Regions from separate parts of the Homo sapiens genome. Here region 1 is linked to region 2. Evidence: fine-mapped expression QTL. A gene starts in region 2. The other region holds a variant in brackets. All regions are shown on one strand. Distances are from middle to middle.

Region 1 (9,389 bases), 65 kb before region 2:
GTTAAAGTAGATGAAGAAAATCTAGCCTCACAAAGATACATAGTTAGAAAAAGTATTTTAGTAATCTTTTCAAATAACTGTGAATGTTCTCCTTTGATGACAAAACTTGATCATCAATAGCTTCTCAAAGATAAGGTAGTGTGGAATCTGAAATCCTATCACTGAATTTTTAAAGTCTACACATTTAAAACCCACAGGTTTATCTTAAGCTTCAGACAAACCTTTTATCCATTCATGATTCTGCCACTTCACACATGGGTCATTTGTAGAATATTGGTTCATTGAGTTATGGAGGTCTTCCAGATGTTTTATTTCATAATATGTATATTTTTTAAAAACACACACATTTGTTAATATCCCTATCCATCTCATCCCAAAAGTCTTTAGCTAGAATACCAAAAGAAAATATCTCCTCTTTAATATTATTAAAGTTGTGGCCTGAACGAGGGCTTCATTCATTCATTTTCCCGTGTGTTTAATAAGTCTTTAGGGCCAGGCGTGGTGGCTCAAGTCTGTAATCCCAGCAATTTGGGAGGCCAAGGTGGGAAAATCACTAGAGCCCAGGAGTTCGAGACCAGCCTGGGAAGCACAGTGAGACCCCGTCTCTACAAAAACAATAAATAAATTAGCCAGGCATGGTAGGACATGCCTGTTGTGCCAGCTACACAGGAAGCTGAGGTGACAAGATCGTTGGAGCCCAGGAGTTTGAGGCTGCAGTGAACCAGGATCACACTGCAGCGCTCCAGCCTGGGCGGCAGAGCAAGACATTGTCTCAATAAATAAATAAATAAGTCTTTAATGAGCATCTACTACATGCCAGTCATGTTTCTGGAAACTGGGGACAAATCCATGCCTTTGTAGCAGTTGCATTCTAGTGGGGATGGAGCCGGGAGAGAAACAATAAAAGGTGATACGTTATCATATGTTGGAAGTTGATAAGAGATAGACAGAAAAGATTAGAACAGAGGATGTGGGTGAGGAAGTGCTCGTAGTGGGTGGGGACCTGCGATTGAAATGATCTCACCTCCCTGCGGCCTCCCTTTGGTCTGCAGCCTCCCTTTGGTCTACAGCCAATGGTGGACAGTGTCAGATTTTGCCCCCAGCCTTCCCACCAGCTCTGCTATGGGATCAAACATTCTATGCTTGTTAGGTCCAAGCACTGTTTTCACTTTTGGTTGGGGAAAAATTGGCAGCTTCTCTTTCCGTATGTCATGTCTACATCCCAGCTATTCATAAACAAGCAGTCATGTTTCATGAATACCTGTCTAGCAAGGGGCAGATGAATAGGACGGGGAGCAGGGAGGAGACAGCTGTGAAGCAAAAACGTGACAATGGCTGGCAGGAACCCAGGGAATGCATTGCATTTATATTTGGAACTATGGGGGAAGATGCAGCTTAGATGGAGGCCATTCCAAGTCACCCAAGTGCTCAATGTTCAGAACCAGAATAGCACGTGGCGTGAAACTCTCTCATGGGCTGAGACTGGACAAGCTAGTTCCATTCTCTGACAAGTCTGGTCTTCCGGACTCGGCCCCTGGAAAGCTGCCTTTCTTCCTCATTACCCCTTCTCCTCTCCCCTTACCATGGGATCTTGTGAGCCTTTCTTCAACAGACACAGGCTCCTCCCTGCAGCTTTGTATGAAGTTCATAACTGGGCTCAGATCAAAGTTGTGGTGGAAGCCTTTAGAATTCTGAAGGAAGCAGAAAAGGCATTGAATGACACCCCCAAGACCAACTTTTATGTTTAATGAAAAAAATGTTGCAGCCAGTGGTAACATTTTTTTGAATGTACAATTTAGAAATGTCCACTGGGTGTCGCATGGCCCTGCTGGGAAACTAAATGCTACAAGATAGTGAAGCGTACACACTTTTTACCGTGATAAGCTAGTTTCATAGCTATGCACAAACTGACCATCGCTGAACTAATAACTGAGCACTATTTGAGAGACTATCTTTGTACACCTCTCAAATTCTGCAGTTACTGTTTTGACTTTTAAGTACCAGTCCCTGACGGGCACATGGTAGGGGTTATAATACACTATACCTCTCCAGTCATCCCTGGAACTCTAATTCTATCTTTATAAACAACTCATTATCACTGACATCCTTTTTTTTTGACAGGGTCTTGCTCTGTCACCTGGGCTTCAGTGCAATTGTGCAATCAGAGCTCACTGCTGCTTCAACCTCCCAGGCTCAAGCAATTCTCCTGTCTCAGCCTCCGAAGTAGCTAGGACCATAGGCATGTACTACCACGCCCAGCTAATTTTTTAATTTTTTTGTAGAGACAGAGTCTCGATATGTCGCCAAGCTTGGTCTCAAACTCCAAGGCTCAAGTGCTCAAGTGATCCACCCACCTCGACCTCCCAAAGTGCTGGGATTACAGGTATGAGCCACCACATCCAACCAACATCCATTTTTATGTGTACATGTGTAAAGTATGTAAATTATTTTAAAAGGCTGGGCGCAGTGGCTCACGCCTGTAATCCCAGCACTTTGGGAGGCTGAGGCGGGCAGATCACCTGAGGTCAGGAGTTCAAGACCAGCCTGGCCAACATGGCAAAACCCCGTCTCTACTAAAAATACAAAAATTAGCTGGGCATGATGGTGGGTGCCTGTAATCCCAGCTGCTCAGGAGGCTGAGGCAGGGAGAATCGCCTGAACCCGGGAGGCGGAGGTTGCAGTGAGCCGAGGTCGTGCCACTGCACTCCAGCCTGGGCGACAGAGTGAGCCTCCATCTCAAAAATAAATAAATAAGTAAATAAATTACTTTGAAAGCTTATTTTTCTACTAAAATAAAATGATTCAGCAAATAGTATTGTTATTATCTATTACTCCTACTGGCAGTAGGTCTCCCTAATTAGAACATTATTTATTAGCTTTCTAGATTGCTATATTTTGATTGATTGATTTATCATTCTCTGGGTGAAATAATAAATTATTCTCCATTTTCCAGATGTAAAAGGATTACTTCTAAAATCACATTAAATGGAGAAGAATTTAACTAAAGTAATCAATATTAAAAAGATTGTAGGCTTTTGCAATGTTCAAAATATCTATTTTTTTTCTTTTTTAGAGACAAGCTCTCACTCTGTTCCTCAGGCTGGAATGCAGTGGCACAATCATAACTCACTACAGCCTTGAACTCCTGGGCTCAAGTGATCTTCCTGCCTCAACCTCCTAAGTAGCTATAACTACAGGCACACACCACTGCATCCAGCTAATTTTTACAAAATTTTTGTACAGATGGGGTCTTGCTCTGTTGCCCAGGCTGGTCTCCAACCTCTGGCCTCAAGTGATCCCCCCATCTTGGCCTCCCAAAGTGCTGGGATTACAGACATGAGCCACTGCACCCAGCCTGAAAAATCTAATTTTTAAGAGATCTTTGGGGATATATGAATTTTAGTGTGGTCACCCCTTTGTAAAATTTTTAGTATTTTAATTATTAAATTTAGTGACAATTAATATCCAAACACTCCCTCTTTTTTATTTTGAATATTTTGTGAAATTGTTGTACAGTTTATTTTAAAAGAACTTTCATACTACAGACCTAAGAATAATATATTGAAAAAAATAAAATTTCTGAAGCTATAAGGACAACAGCTGCAAGGCCTCCTTAATACAATATATTGTTTTTATTTTACAGGAGATACACACACACGTATATAATATATGTATTTTTCCTTTTGCACGAAAATGTTGTGATTAAAGCTTGAACGTCATTAGAATCACAAGATAACACAAGTGTCCTCCTTAGCTAAACTGAGCCTATTTCCATTTGGATTTGTGCATCCCAATAATTTTGTTCTCTGCAGCCTCAAGGTCTCATTTGCATAGAAAGGTTAAGAAATGAAATAAAATCCATGGTCCTCACCACACAACATGACTTCTGCACAGAAAACATACAGTAGGAAAAGTCTGAACTCTTTAGCAAGTCCTCAAAGGCAAAAAGTGGCATCTGTGGAATCAAGAAGCAAGTATCACCTTGACTCAAATGCCTCATATAACTGCAGAATCCCTCACTGTATCCATGTGAAGGAAAATTGTCAACCCTGTGGTTTGGATCAATGAAGCCAAGCAAACAGGACAGCTGCCACTTTTGCATAGTACTCTTAGAAGATGTATTTTAGATCTGTCAGATGGCATTAAAAAATCTCCTCTAGGTCTCAGTCCGATGTCAGAATGATAAATTTCAGAAAAACCAAGCTGCCCACTTCTGACTGCTTTGAACTTCATAGTAGAAGATATCAGAATCTTGCCATCTGCTATTTCTACCAAAGCAGGGAAGCTTTCCAAAACTGGTGCTTCATCACAAATTTATGGGCGAAAAGAATCAAATTTATTTCCTTCCTTCCTTCCTTCCTTCCTTCCTTCCTTCCCTTCCTCCCTCCCTCCTTCTCTGTCTCTCCTTCCTTCCTTCCTTTCTTCCTTCCTTCCTCCCTCTCTCCCTCCCTCCCTTCCTTCCTTCCTTCTTTCTTTGAGAGTCTCACTCTGTTGCCCAAGCTGGAGTGCAGTGGTGCTATCGCAGCTCACTATGGTCTTGAATTTCTGTGTTCAAGTGATCCTCCCACGTAGCTGGGACTACAGGTGTGCACTACGACGCCCAGCTAATTTTTAAATCGTTACTAGAGATGGGGGTCTCACTATGTTGCCCAGCCTGGTCTTGAACTCCTAGGCTCAAGCAATCCCCTCACCTAGGCCTCCCAAAGTGCTGGGATTACAGGTGTGAGCCACTACGCCCAGCCTAACTTTTTGGAAAACTATACCCAAGCCACTAGTTTTTCAAGGTTAGTTATTACCTTCAAATGACGCTTAACTGACATTTCTGACCATCTAAATGAACTTAATTGAAAAAAAAAAAAAAATCAAGGGCTGTATGAATTGACTCTCCAAAAACTTAACTACTCATAGCATACTGGTTGACTGAAAGCCTTACTGGTAACAGTTGAACACGTATTTTGTATATGTATTACATACCATATTATTACAATAAAGTAAGCTAGAGGAAAGAAAATGTTATGAAGAAAATCATAAGGAAGATAAAATTAATGAATTTACTATTTATTAAGTGGAAGCGGATCACCATAAAGGTCTTCATCCTTATCATCTTCCCATTGAGTAGATGGAGGGTTGGTCCTGCTGTCTCAGTAATGGCAGAGCCAGAAGCAAACTCACATACAGGTGGACATGTGCAGTTCAGCCCTGTGTTGTTCAAGGGTCAGCTGTACAGTCAAGGTTATCCTTCTCTAAATTACATGGAGATGACGTTTTATCAAGGCTTTTCTCATCTGTTCAATTCTCACCTTCTCAGCATGAAAACAGAATGCCCAGCAGGTGGTCCTCATGACCCCTCAAAGAGAGGTTCCCCCAAGCAATCATGATTCAAATATTTTCATCTTAAGTAGCTTGAACGTTAGCCTTGTCACCCAGGTGAATTTAGTCTCATGATTAGGTAACTATGTATTTCATATGTTCATAGTCTATCTTGAGCTTTAAAAGAGATTTATGGCATCATATTCACAGCTACGAAGGTTCATAATTTTGGGGCCACTTCTACAGTCATTTCATACAATTTATTTGTGAAATATAGAAAAAAACTATTCAATAATCAAATCCAGTTATTTTTCTTTTACATTTATTTAAAATGATTAAAAATAGTTTATGACAGTTTTAGAAAATGGAATGGATTAAAGGCTAAAAATGTTTAGATTCCATTTAAGTAGGTGTGTGTGTGTGTGTGTGTGTAACTAAAAACACAGGTTTTTTCACAAGAATTTAATTAAGCTCATGCTGAAACTCTTATAGGGAAAATAGTAATTGAGCATCAGACATCACCACTCCTGAAAAAAACCTTCTACAAGAATTGAAAAGTGTTGCAGGACCTAATACTGAAATAGGAAATATGGACTATCTTCAAACTGCACAAATGATGCATGAATCCACAT[T/C]TGAGACCCGCAACTCCGAGGTACCTAATGTGAATGATTAAAGATATTTTACAAACCGGGGAGCCCTTTCAAGTGCTTTCCACTTTCAACCTTCTCTCTTTGAAGACCCCAATTCATAATGGTGAGCATAAAACATGCATACTGGGAATTTTTATGGGCCCCATATATACATTCCAGACTGTACATGAATGTCTTGATCTTTGGTTCTGATATTTATGGCAAAGTCTAAATGTTATATGAACATTAACCTTAGTTTACTCAAACTATACCAATATGCCCAAACCATCCTTTTTTCTCTCCCCACAAGTATTTCTAAAAGAGAAGCAAAAAGCTAGTATACTTCTTGGATGCCTAAGGATTTAAGACTTCCTACCCTGATGAATAGAAAAAGTATAAACCAAGGAATGCAATGTTGGTGCCTTAGGAACTAGCACTTACAGAGTATCAAAGACTAAAAATACTACAAAAAGGCTCAACGCCTGATAATCACTATTTCTGTCTCCTATGCGCCAAAACATATCACAACCATATGATTTCCTAGGAAAAAGCATCCCAAGATTTCCCCCAGATGGTTTTAACATCAGTCATTTTGCACTTAACATTTCAAAATGCAGCCTTATTTTCTTCAGGTAATAATAATTTTATGTGCAGATATCTCAAAGCTGAAAGGATGATCAAACCCTGCTTGTGGGTGTCAGAAATAATGCATCCCCACTTCATTCGCAATAATGAATGCTCAATGATTTTTTCATATCACTGAAGAATTTAGCACAGGTCCAGCATCTTTGGAACCTCAACAATATTCTTCATCTCCCAGAAGCTGATAACATCCCCTCCCCACCAAGATATTCTACCTCCCTACTGCTCACCGCTTTGTGCCATCAACATGGTTAAGCGTGTGTGTGTTATTGCACCATGAGGTAGCTGAAGATCTCACAACAGAGAGCCACAGTCTCTTTGTGCAAATGAATAGCCAAACCAACATTGCAAGCAATCCTTTTTTAGAACGCAGGGTCTAGCTGCCTAACTTATCTTTATAACCACATCACATTCAATGAGTTGGGAATGCTTAGTGAGGCAGCTCATGTACTTTACACAGAAGAAAACACACTTTAGGTCATCAAATTGTGTCAAGAATAAAAGGAAATCTCCACAACAGTGATAAACACGGTTCTTGTTTTAGTTGTTTTTCTCAAAGTAATCAGGGGATCTTAACATCTTCAGACATTTTCTGGTTCTGAAAGGAAGATTAGAAACAAATGTCATTGTGGGGGCAAAAAAAAAAGTCTTATTAAACAGAGAAAAAGAAAACCAAGATCCAATTCTATGCTGTTACAAGAGACTCTTGCTCTAGATTTAGGAGAAGGAAGATTAGAACAGAAAAAAATGAAGCAGAAATGAAGTTGCACATCTTAAATATATACAATGTTTGTCTATCATACTTTAATAAAGCTAGAAGAATGAAAAATCTATTTTAAAAAAAAGAAAACCAAGATCAGACTATGTGCTGTCTACATGACACCTGCTTTACATTCGGCAGAAGGAGATAGATTAGAACAAATAAATGATGCAGAAATGAAGTTGTACATCTTAAATATATACAATGTTTATTTGTCAACTATACCTCAATAAAGCAGGAAAAATTAAAAATAGAAAATATTTAAAAACTGTTAAAATCATATCTGGAAACAAATATTCGTTTTGAAAACATTGTTTTTGACATTTTGCCATTTGTTAAGGATTTTGATGATCTTAAATGAATTGAGTAACTTCCTTTTTGGTTAAAACTAATATTTGTAGGAACTTCTTTTTTCGAATATGGCCTTGTTGGTCTTTATAACTTCTGAAGTGATGTTGTCATTTGCTCCACTTTATAAAATAAAAGCAAAGTATGATTCTTAAAAGTCCACATCAAGTGACAGACATCTGCTTCTATCTGTGTAGCTCTGTTACTACAACTCTTTCTCTACAAAGTGTGCAAGCTTCAGTGTATGGCCTCAGCAGGTACACAGTTCCACAGGTTGTGCACTGCACCACATCACCATGGATATGGTTAGTATACCATGTACGTCATCCTTTAGGAGACAGAGAAAATTAATGACCTAACTAAGGAGAGGTGGACAGCTGGGTACCATTAGCAGCAGCCTGGAACTTTAGAGTCAAGTTCGCAGAGCTCTGAGCCCCATTTGATACCAAACCCATACGTATTTGCTGTCATGCACATATTTCCTAGATAGTATAAAGGCTTTACAGCCAGCGAGGTGATATAGGCCCAGGATCCACATAAATGTCACTGCTCACCCTTGAAGAGATCTCCCTAACATCAGCTCACTCTGTCTACATCCTCCTTTCTGATCTCAGGAACTTTAAGGGAGGGGAAGATAAACTTGGTGCTTGGGAATACCTGGTGAGGGTATCATCGAAGTACAATGGAGAAAGTAGACAAAAATACTTACCAGGCAGCCAAAAGGCATGAAAGAGCTTCAAGACATTATACCTCTTTAGCAAAAACGTGCTTCCTTCCACCTCAGATAAATGGGGCAGGCATCATCCACGTTTTTAAAACTACACCTATTTCAGAAACTCAACTGGCCCCCATTCCAATGATTTTCCTTCTAAAATATTGCACTAAAATATATTTGCCTTGATTATTGAGTTTGTGGGGGACCCCTGTACCCCGCCCTTACATTTTGTGCTTGTGGAGATGGGTGCCTCTCTCTGCTTACTCAGTTTCAGCCCTTGGTTAACAAAGGCTTACAAATCACTGCCACAAAAGCTACTGAAGTTAACACGTGGTGTTCGTTAATGATGGCTGCCATGTTGGGTGAAAGAGTGTTGTCACTGAACCCAAGAATCTGCTCTCAGGTTGCCAGGAAAATAAGGCAGTTTTTCAGAAACTCAGTTTCCTCCTAAAATTTCAGGACGGGGCGTAATGTAGACGGAGGCTCACCCCAAACGGAGGTTCATTAGCTAACGGTTGATACTGCCCATTCACCAGCAGAGGGAGCGCATGGGAAGGTTTTAGGATTTTTGAGGCCAAATGCAAATCCTAAAGCAAACACCGTAGGAATGGGCACCCCTTTCTGGTTTCCTTCGGGGACACAAAGAAGGTATGAGTTAGAGGGCCCTGGGCAAACTCCAGACAGATTCTGACGTGGGTGGCCTGAGGTTTAAACCAAGCCTCCAGAGACACCCAGTTAAAGATCTGAGTCACTCTTTAGGCTATAAAACAATCCCTGACTGTTGTTTCAGAGATTTCTTTAGGGCATCCTCTGCTCTCAAATCCCAAGTGATTCTTCAAACCCAGGAGTGTGGAGCCGGCATTGAACCAGGAAGCCACAGCAGATCTTTCCTCTCCCCTATGGTCTGAGCGCACCTTCGGAATTTCAGAGAGGCTTATAATTCAGTGTTTCGGTAGTTTTCTTTGCGGGTGGGGTTCTGGGCAAA
Region 2 (9,307 bases):
GGTTCTCAGCTTCTTCTCAGCTGTTAGAAGACCTGATTTTGTCTCGTGCTCCTTCATGCCCCTCTGGATTGGACGGCAAATACTAATTAAATACAGTGGAAATGTAGGGCTGCTAAAATGTCAACCTCTATTAGGAATATGGCCGTCTTGCTATTATCTTCTTTTGTATTGATAATTTAGTAATCATCATAATGATTTACAGCATATTAACCATTAACAATATTCTGTCTTCTTTATTTTATTTTAAGTTCCGGGATACGTGTGCAGGACGTGCAGGTTTGTTACATAGGTAAACATGTGCCATGGTGGTTTGCTGCACCCATCAACCCGTCACAGAGGCATTAAGCCCCACATGCATTAGCTATTGATCCTGAACAATAATCTGTTTTCTTAAGTACTTCATAGCAATCATCGCACCAGCCTTGCAGAATGTTTTTGGGATCTTGGGAATGTGCCCCATTTCCAGCTGGTGATGGCTGGGGATGAAACAGGGTCGTCTGTGCATTTAACTAATTTTTACCCAGGACATACCCAGCTGCTGCATGTACATCATCTTATTTACACAGAAGGGCCCTGATCCAGACCTCACTTTCCTTCCAGTCCCTCCTGTAACCTCCCTAAGGGGCGCTACTTGTGTCAGAGGCACTGGAACCAGAGCGACTCCATCTTGAATAGGGGCTGGGCAATAGAAGGCTGAAACCTACTGGGCTGCATTCCCAGATGATTAAGGCATTCTGAGTCACAGGATGAGACTGAAGGTCTGCACAAGATACAGGTCATAAAGACCTAGCTGATAAAACAGGTGGTAGTAAAGAAGCCGGCCAGAACCCACCAAAACCCAGATGGTGATGAGAGTGGCCTCTGGTTGTCCTCAGTGTTACCCTCCCACCAGCACCATGACAATTACAAATACCACGGCAATGTCAGGAACTCTGCATGGTCTAAAAAGGGGAGGCATGAATAATCCAAGCCTTGCTTAGCATATCACTAAGAAATAACCATAAAAATGGGCAAGCAGTAGCTCTAAGAGCTGCTCTGCGGAATAGCCATTCTTTTATTCCTTTACTTTCCTAATAAACTTGTTTTCAGTTTACAGACTAGCCCTGAATTCTTTATGGAGCGAGATCCAAGAACCCCGTCTTGGCGTCTGGATCCGGACCCCTTTCCTGTAACACTTGGAGGAGGGATGATTCTGATTTTCAGAAGACAAGGCTTGGGATAGAGCGGGATGCTCACTGGAGTCTTCCCAGACAGAGCTACAGGACAGCTCAGATTCCGCTGCCGGCTGCCCCCGTCCAAATCCTCAGTGCCTCAGTTTACCCATATCTGTGACGGTTAATACTGAATGTCAACTTGATTGGATTGAAGGATACAAAGTATTGATCCTGGGTGTGTCTGTGAGGGTGTTGCCAAAGGAGATTAACATTTGAGTCAGTGGACTGGAAGGGGCGGACCCACCCTCAATTTGGGTGGGCACCATCTAATCAGCTGCCGCTGTGGCTAGAATATAAGCAGGCAGAAAAATGTGAAAAGAGACACTGGCCTAGTCTTCTGGCCTACATCTTTCTCCCATGGTGGATGCTGGAACATCAGACTCCAAGTTCTTCAGTTTTGGAACCTGGACTGGCTCTCCTTGCTCCTCAGCCTGCAGACGGCCTGTTGTGGGACCTTGTGATCATATGAGTTAATACTTAATAAACTCCTCTCTCTATATATATTTCTATTGCATTAGTTCTGTCCCTCTAGAGAACCCTGACTAATACACCATCTGTAAAATGACATCAGGCACGACACTCCCGTCATAGGGCTGAGGGACAATCAACTAAGTTAATCCATGCCTAGTGCATAGGAAGTGCTGCCGTCAGTCAAAGAATTTAGCGCAGGACAGGGTATGGTGGCTGATGCCTGTAATCTCAAGATTTGGGGAGGCCAAGGCAGGAGGATCGTTTGAGCTGAGATGTTCAAGTCCAGCCTGGACAACATAGTGAGATCCCGTCTCTACAAAAAGTTTTAAAAACTAGTCAGGCACAGCGGCAAATGCCTGTAGTCCCAGCTACTCTGGAGGCTGAGGTGGGAGGTTTGTTCGAACCCCTGGGGTGAAGACTGCAGTGAGCTATGATGGAACCACCGCACTCCAGTCTAGGTGACACAGTGGGCCCCTCCCTCAAAAAAATTAAAACACATTAAAAAAAAGAAAATATTTTATGTTGTAAGTGCATTTAATACAACTACCCTACCAAACGCCATAGCTTAGCCTTACCTGCCTTCAGAGTGCTCAGAACACTTTTCATCAGCCAACGGATGGACAAATCATCTAGCACACAGTCAACTTTATAATGAGGTGTTGCATACCTCACATAATTTATTGAACATTGTACTGAAAGTGAAAAACAGAATGGCTGTATGGGGCCGGGCATGGTGGCTCACATTTATAATCCCAGCACTTTGGGAGGCCGGTGGATCACCAGAGGTCAAGATTCAAGACCAGCCTGGCCAACATGGTGAAACCCAGTCTCTACTAAAAATAGAAAAATTAGCTGGGTGTGGTGGTGGGCACCTATAATCCCAGCTACTTGAGATGCTGAGGCAGGAGAATTGCTTGAACGTAGGAGGTGGAGGTTGCAGTGAGCTCAGATTGTGTCACTGCACTCCAGCCTGGGCAACAGAATGAAACGACACGACATCTCAAAAAAAAAAAAGAAAAGTTGTATGGGTACTCAAAGTACAGTTTTCGTTTGTACTGAATGCATACCAATTTTACACCGTTGTAAAGTTGAAAAATCTTAAATTGAACCATCATGTCAAACCATGGTAAGTTGGGAACTGTCTGTATCCGCACTTTGTAGAAGTTGATTTGCCCAAGGGGATATGGTTAACCTTTGGCTCTTACTGTGAATGATACAAACTCCTGGAAGTACTTTTCTGGGGAGGTGGGTTTACTGTTGAACATCTCCCTGTAAACAGAAGCTAATGAATGCATGGCCACATTGTCCACTTACTAGGTGAGATCTGAAGACAGCACAGAATAATAAAAAATTCTCACTGCAGATCCTAGACTATGTCCACCAGGATCTATCCATCCCGACACCGCCTCCGCCCATAAACAACCAACTCCAATCTTAATGACGTCCATGTCTTTAAATAGGATAAACAGGAAATGCTGCCACAGGGACATCTGAATGATGTGTTTTAACTCCTAACAGAAATACTTCTCTCTCTTAAGATGCGCCCAGGTGTTCCCTTCTCTGAAATCGCCACATGAAAATGACCAAAGAAACTTACTCAACCGTTGTTCAAATCCTGTACTTTATGAGTTCATTGGAGTTTCTTAAAGAGGTCCTCGTACGGAACTGAAAAATCTAATCTTGGATCTGGGACAGCCAGCCTGCAAGTTTATATCGAAGTTTTTGATGTGAACAATTCAGGTGGTTTTAATTTGCAAGAATGAATGACAGTGTTTAGGAAAAGATTTAAAAATCTGAATAAATGCAACCCTTCCGGCAAACGAATCTCTGGTAATCTGCCCCACGGGATGAAGTAGTTTCAACTCTACTTTTACTGTATGGAAATGGTCAGAACTAATTTTTAAAATCAGAAAGAAATGACTGACATTCCACACACACCCAGTCATGCTTGAATCATGGAGTTAAATAGGTCATTTTTTAAACGCTTGGGACACATGGATCAAAACAGGAAAATATGGCGAATATCTAGATGGTATCAGCTAACATCCTGCCCTTCTGGATCTAATTCCCAGATTCCAAATGGGAGCAGCCCGTCTTCTCCCTCCCCTCTCAGCCACCCATCGCTCTTAGTCTCCTTTCTAATCCCATTGGGCAAATTATCCCCATTCACTTCATAGCAACTCCTTTGGAAAGAGTTTCTTAAAGCAAGAATAGAAAAATCCATGCCCAGGCAGATCTCCCTCAAAGCAAAATGCCTCTTACCTCGGGCGTGCATTAGAAAACACAGGAACGCAAGACAGGGAAGTCCCCACCAGCTCTCCATGGTTTGCTTCAGGATGCAAGAACCTCAGTGGACTCCCCAGCCAAGCGGATTGTGAGACCCGGCCTCTCCACCCTCCTGTTGTTGACTTCTGGTCTCCCAGCTTGGAAGGAAGGGAGGCGATGTCTTCAAGTGGAAAATATGAGCGGAACTGCCAGAAACAAATGGGCTCCAAGCTCAGATCCCAAACTCCACAGCTGAAAACCTGTGGGACCAGTGTAGGCACACTCAGTCGTGTGTCGGAGCCAGCCTCCCCGGGCTGCCCCAACCAATCTGCAGCAGCACAGACGATGGGGAAACTGGGGTGGTTCCCAAGCACCAATGGGCATCTCAGGCTTCTGGAAGCCGGCACACTTGCTTGGCAACTCTGCTCGCTGCGGGTGTGGGAGCTGTAGCAAGTTCAAAGTCACCAACCCAGAAACCAGAGAAGACACTGGCCGCCTGTAATCTTCCTCCTGCAGGACATGATTGTACAGTGATACCCAGTGTGGGGTTAATGTACACATCAGTGCAAAGACCTCAGTTGAAGTCTTGGCTTTTATACCTAACAAACTCAGTGACTTCCAAGAGGCATTTTTTATCCTCAGCCTTCAGTTGTCTTTGTAGGTGGCAGAACTAATATTTCAGCAGAGACGGTTGTTCAGGAAAAGGAGATATGTGGCTTTTTGTGTCTTTCATTTAAATCTGAGACATTTTATGTAACTACCAAAATTTACATCTTCTGTTTGAAATCTCCTTGGAGAAGAAACATGACTGGATAGCTGAGTTCGATGATGACTCCTGCTTTCACAATGGTTTTAATTATATTCTTCCCTGCAGATCTGTGAGTGTGTCTAATTTATCCATATACAACTCGTGGGTTAACCCTTACACTCTACCTACCATGAAGCAGTAGGCAAGCACTTAAAAAGTTACCATTTGCAAACAGCTTTGAAGTCCTCTGGTAAATAGATTAACTGCAGGAGAAAGGGGAAAATCAGTCTTAGTTATGAGGGCAGCTTCTAAATTCCCAGAGAAGCAGGATTCATGGCAAACAGACCCAAAAGGAGAAATAAACCTTGGACTTTTCTCTCTGCAAATTTGAGCATCTGGAGTGTTAAGTCTGTTCATGTTGTTGACCTGGTGTTTGGGAGTTGTCTTCTATGAAATATCTTCCTTTTTTTTTTTTGAGACAGAGTCTCACTCTGTTGCCCAGGCTGGAGTGCAGTGGTGTGATCTCAACTCACTACAACCTCCGCCTCTCAGGTTCAAGTGATTCTCCTGCCTCAGCCACCCGAGTAGCTAGGATTACAGGCACCCGACACCACACCCGGCTAATTTCTGTATTTTTAGTAGATACAGGGTTTCACTGCATTGGCCAGGCTGGTCTTGAACTCTTGACCTCAAGTGATCCACCTGCCTCGGCTTCCCAAAGTGCTGGGATTACAGGTGTGAGCCATCGCGCCTGGACTGCAACATCTTTATAAAGGTAAGTTACTTGGATGGATTAAGTTCCTGTGCACACAGGTGTGTGTGTGTGTGCACGTGTCTGTCTGTGTGTGTGTGCGTGTGTGCGTGTGCATGTGTGCGTGTGCATGTGTGTTCATGTGTGTGTGTGTGTGCATATGGGGGAAATGCTCTAAGGCAGTTAGCTTGTGCAGTCCTAAGCTCTGAGTGGCAGAGTCCAGGAAGCAGTTGATGCATTTAGAAAGATATTTCCTTCAAAGTCCCCTGACCCTAAAGAGGACTGACACCGTGACATCTGCTACAAAGTGGATGGACGTCAAAAACTGGATGCTGAGTTAGAGAAAACAGACACAGAAGAACGCATTGTGTAGGATTCCATTTCTCTGAAATGTCCAGAACAGGCAAATCTGCAGAGACAGAAAGCACATTGCCGGTTGCCAGGGGCTGGAAAGACGTGGGAATGGATATATTATGAGTTGCATTTTTTCTCCCGCAAACTTCATATATTGAAGCCCAACCCTTCAGTACTTCAGAATGTGACTTTCTTTGGAGATAAGATCTTTGCAGATGTATTACTTTGGTGCAAAAGTAATTGCAGTTTTCACCATTAATTTTTTTTTTTTTTTTGAGACACAGGCTTGCTCTGTCACCCAGGCTGGAATGCAGTGGCGTGATGTCAGCTCACTGCAACTTCTGCCTCCTGAGCTCAAGTGATTCTTCTGCCTCAGCCTCCTGAGTAGCTGGAATTACAGGCATGCACCACCACACCTGGTTAATTTTTGCATTTTTAGTAGAGACGGGGTTTCACCATGTTGGCCAGGCTGGTCTCGAACTCCTGACCTTGTGATCCGCCCACCTCGGCCTCTCGAAGTGCTGAGATTACAGGCGTGAGGTAGCGTGCCCAGCTCCTCGCCATTACTTTTGAAGGTGAAAACTGCAATTACTTTTGCACCAACCTAATCATTAGTTAAGATGAGGTCATACTGCAATATGATTGGTATTTTAAAAGAAGAGAGAAATCTGGACACTGACATGCACACAGGGAGAAGGCCTTGGGAACATGAAGTGGGAGATTGGGGTGATGCACCTACAAGCCAAGGGATATTGGCAGCAAACCACTGGACGCAATGGGAGGGGCATGGAATCCATTCTACCTCACAGCATCAGAAGAAATCAGCCCTGCTGGCTGGGCCCGGTGGCTCACGTCTGTAATCCCAGCACTTTGGGTGGCTGAGGTGAGCGGATCACTGGAGATTAGTAGTTCGAGACCAGCCTGGCCAACATGGTGAAATCCCGTTTCTACTAAAAATACAAAAATTAACTAGGCACGATGGTGCGCGCCTGTAATCCCAGCTACTTGGGAAGCTGAGGCAGGAGAATTGCTTGAACCCGGGAGGCAGAGGTTGCAGTGAGCCAAGATTGTGCCACCGCACTACAGACTGGGCAACAGAAACAGAGTGAGACTCAGAAAGAGAGAGAGAGCGAGAGAGAGAGAAGAAAGAGAAAGAAGAAAGAAAGGAAGAAAGAAAGAAAGAAGAAGGAGGAGGAGGAAAGGAAGGAAGGAAGGAAGGAAGGAGGGAAGGAAGGAAGGAAGGGAGGGAGGGAGGGAGGGAAAGGGGAAAGGTAAGGAAAGGAAGAAAGAGAAAGGAAGGAAGGAGGGAAGGCAGGAAGGGAGGGAGGGAGGGAGGGAGGGAGGGAGGGAGGGAGGGAGGGAAGGAGGGACGGAGGGAGGAATCCACCCTGTTTGCTCCTTGATTTCAGACCTCTATGCTCCAGAACTGTGACAGCTTAACTGTCTGTTTTTTAAGCCCCCTACCTAGTTTGAAGCATGTTTTTATGACAGCCCCAGGAAGCCAATATAAAAAACAGCTGCTAATGGGATTTCTTTTGGGGGCAGTGAAAATATCTTGGAACTAGGTAGAAGTGGTGGCCACAAAACACTGTGAAAGCAGCAAGCAACCTGAATTGTTCACTTTAAAATGGTGAATTCTCCTGTCATCCCAGCACTTTGGGAGGCTGAGGCGGGTGGATCACCTAAGGTCAGGAGTTCAAGACCAGCCTGGCCAACATGATGCAACCCATCTCTACTAAAAATACAAAAATTAGCCAGATGTGGTGGTGACTGCCTGTAATCCCAACTACTTGGCAGGCTGAGGCACGAGAATTGCCTGAACCCGGTAAGCAGAGGTTGCAGTGAGATGAGATCACGCCAGCCTGGGTGACAGAGACTCCGGGTCAAAAAAAAAAAAAAGGTTAATTCTATGATTTGTGAATTTCACCTTAATAAAAAAAATGTTTCCCAAAAGGTAGTGAGGAGTTAGGTTAAATGGTTAAGTTCAGGAAATCCTCTCAGATGTAGTGAAGGTGCAAAATAATTGCTACGATTTCCAGCATGCCTAACGTGCCAGTGTTGTAAGTATTTTACATGCTTCTTGAGGCAAGAGTAGACAAGCTTTTCTGCAGAAGGTCAGATAGTAAAGGCATTTATCTTTGCAAACCATATGGATTCTGCTGCAATATGTAACCAATGTCTGTGCGCCAAGTGGACTTTATGAACATAAAAACTTGAGTGTCACATAATTTTCATGCATCACAAAATATTATTGTTCTTTGGAGTTTTGAAAATTATTCAGACATGTAAAAACCATTCTTGGCTGGGCACCGTGGCTCATGTCTGTAATCCCAGGACTTTGAGAGCCAGAGGCAGGCAGATCACTTGAGGCCAGGAGTTCGAGACCAACCTGGCCAACATGGTGAAACCCTGTCTCTACTGAAAATACAAAAAGTAGCCGGGCGTAGTGGTGCATGCCTGTAGTCCCAGCTGCTCAGGTGGCTGAGGCAGGAGAATCGCTTGAACCCAGGGGCGGAGGTTGCAGTGAGCCGAGATCATGCCACTGGACTCCAGCCTGGGCGACGGAGTAAGACGCCATCTCAAAACAACGATAACGACAATAATACAAAAAAATTCTTACCTCGAAAGCTGTACAAAAACACACCGTGGGCAGATTTGGCTCCCGGGTTCTAGTTTGCCGACATCAAAGCTGTGTGTTGCAGGAGTCCTGGGAAACCCAGTTTTATCACCTCTGCTTCACTAAAGTATGGTCAGGGCAGGCCGTGTGCCCAGCGGTAATACACGCAGGCTCCAGATCAGAGCACGTTAGGGGAAAAGCACTCTACTTCACCGCTCGAAGCCTCAGCTGATCAAATGCTGGGAGCTCACAGACATGGCAGAATTTACAAAGCCGACTTTAATTTTCACATCCTCGATAACCTTAAAAAGCGTGAATGCATCTCCTTTTCAATGTTCATGGGATGCTCCTGAAAATTCACAACTGCACTACAAAGAAAGCTTTAGCAAACTGTTTTTTTAAAGTAGAAACAAGACAGAAGACATTCTGTTGCTGTAAAATTGGAAATAAGAATATTCTAGGCCACGCATGATGGCTCACACCTGCGATCCCAGCACTTTAGGAGGCCGAGGCGGATGGATCACCTGAGGTCAGGAGTTTGAGACCAGCCTGGCCAACATGGTGAAACCACATTTCTACTACAAATACAAAAATTAGCCGGGTGTGGTGGCATGTGCCTGTAATCCCAGCTACTTGGGAGGCTGAGGCAGGAGAATCACTTGAACCGGAGAGGTGGAGGTTGTAGTGAGCTTAGATCAGGCCACCGCACTCCAGCCTGGGGGACAGAGTAAGACTCTGTCTCAAAAACAAAATAAAAAGTAATAAAAAATAAAAGAATAAAGATATCCTTATTCTGCGTCACACTAACTTCCTGACTTTGTGATTCACCCTGGCACACATACAGACATGGATACAACAGGTTTTTAAGATATAAAATCAAGAAAAAA

Alleles and levels. Positions count from the first base shown, and alleles are read on the strand shown. Sizes are in standard deviations (SD) of each study's normalised expression.
For the expression in liver of the gene that starts at base 4,243 in region 2, allele T in region 1 goes with a lower level than allele C (moderate effect, 0.57 SD a copy in GTEx).

The links. PIP is the estimated chance that this variant, and not a neighbour inherited with it, causes the effect.
Region 1: its variant is fine-mapped to the expression of XG in liver (GTEx, PIP above 0.99).

Annotation. Positions count from the first base shown.
Region 1 is chrX:2,812,154-2,821,542 of GRCh38, reverse strand. It overlaps XG (Xg glycoprotein (Xg blood group)), which reads right to left. Exons shown (of 11, transcript NM_001141919.2): 11 at 5,043-7,179. The coding sequence ends at 7,163. Among named protein-coding and RNA genes, the nearest start is that of GYG2, 12 kb to the left of the region's middle. The variant T/C (reference allele first, on the strand shown) is at 5,943.
Region 2 is chrX:2,746,976-2,756,282 of GRCh38, reverse strand. XG (Xg glycoprotein (Xg blood group)) reads right to left here and starts at 4,243. Exons shown (of 11, transcript NM_001141919.2): 1 at 3,948-4,243. The coding sequence starts at 4,008.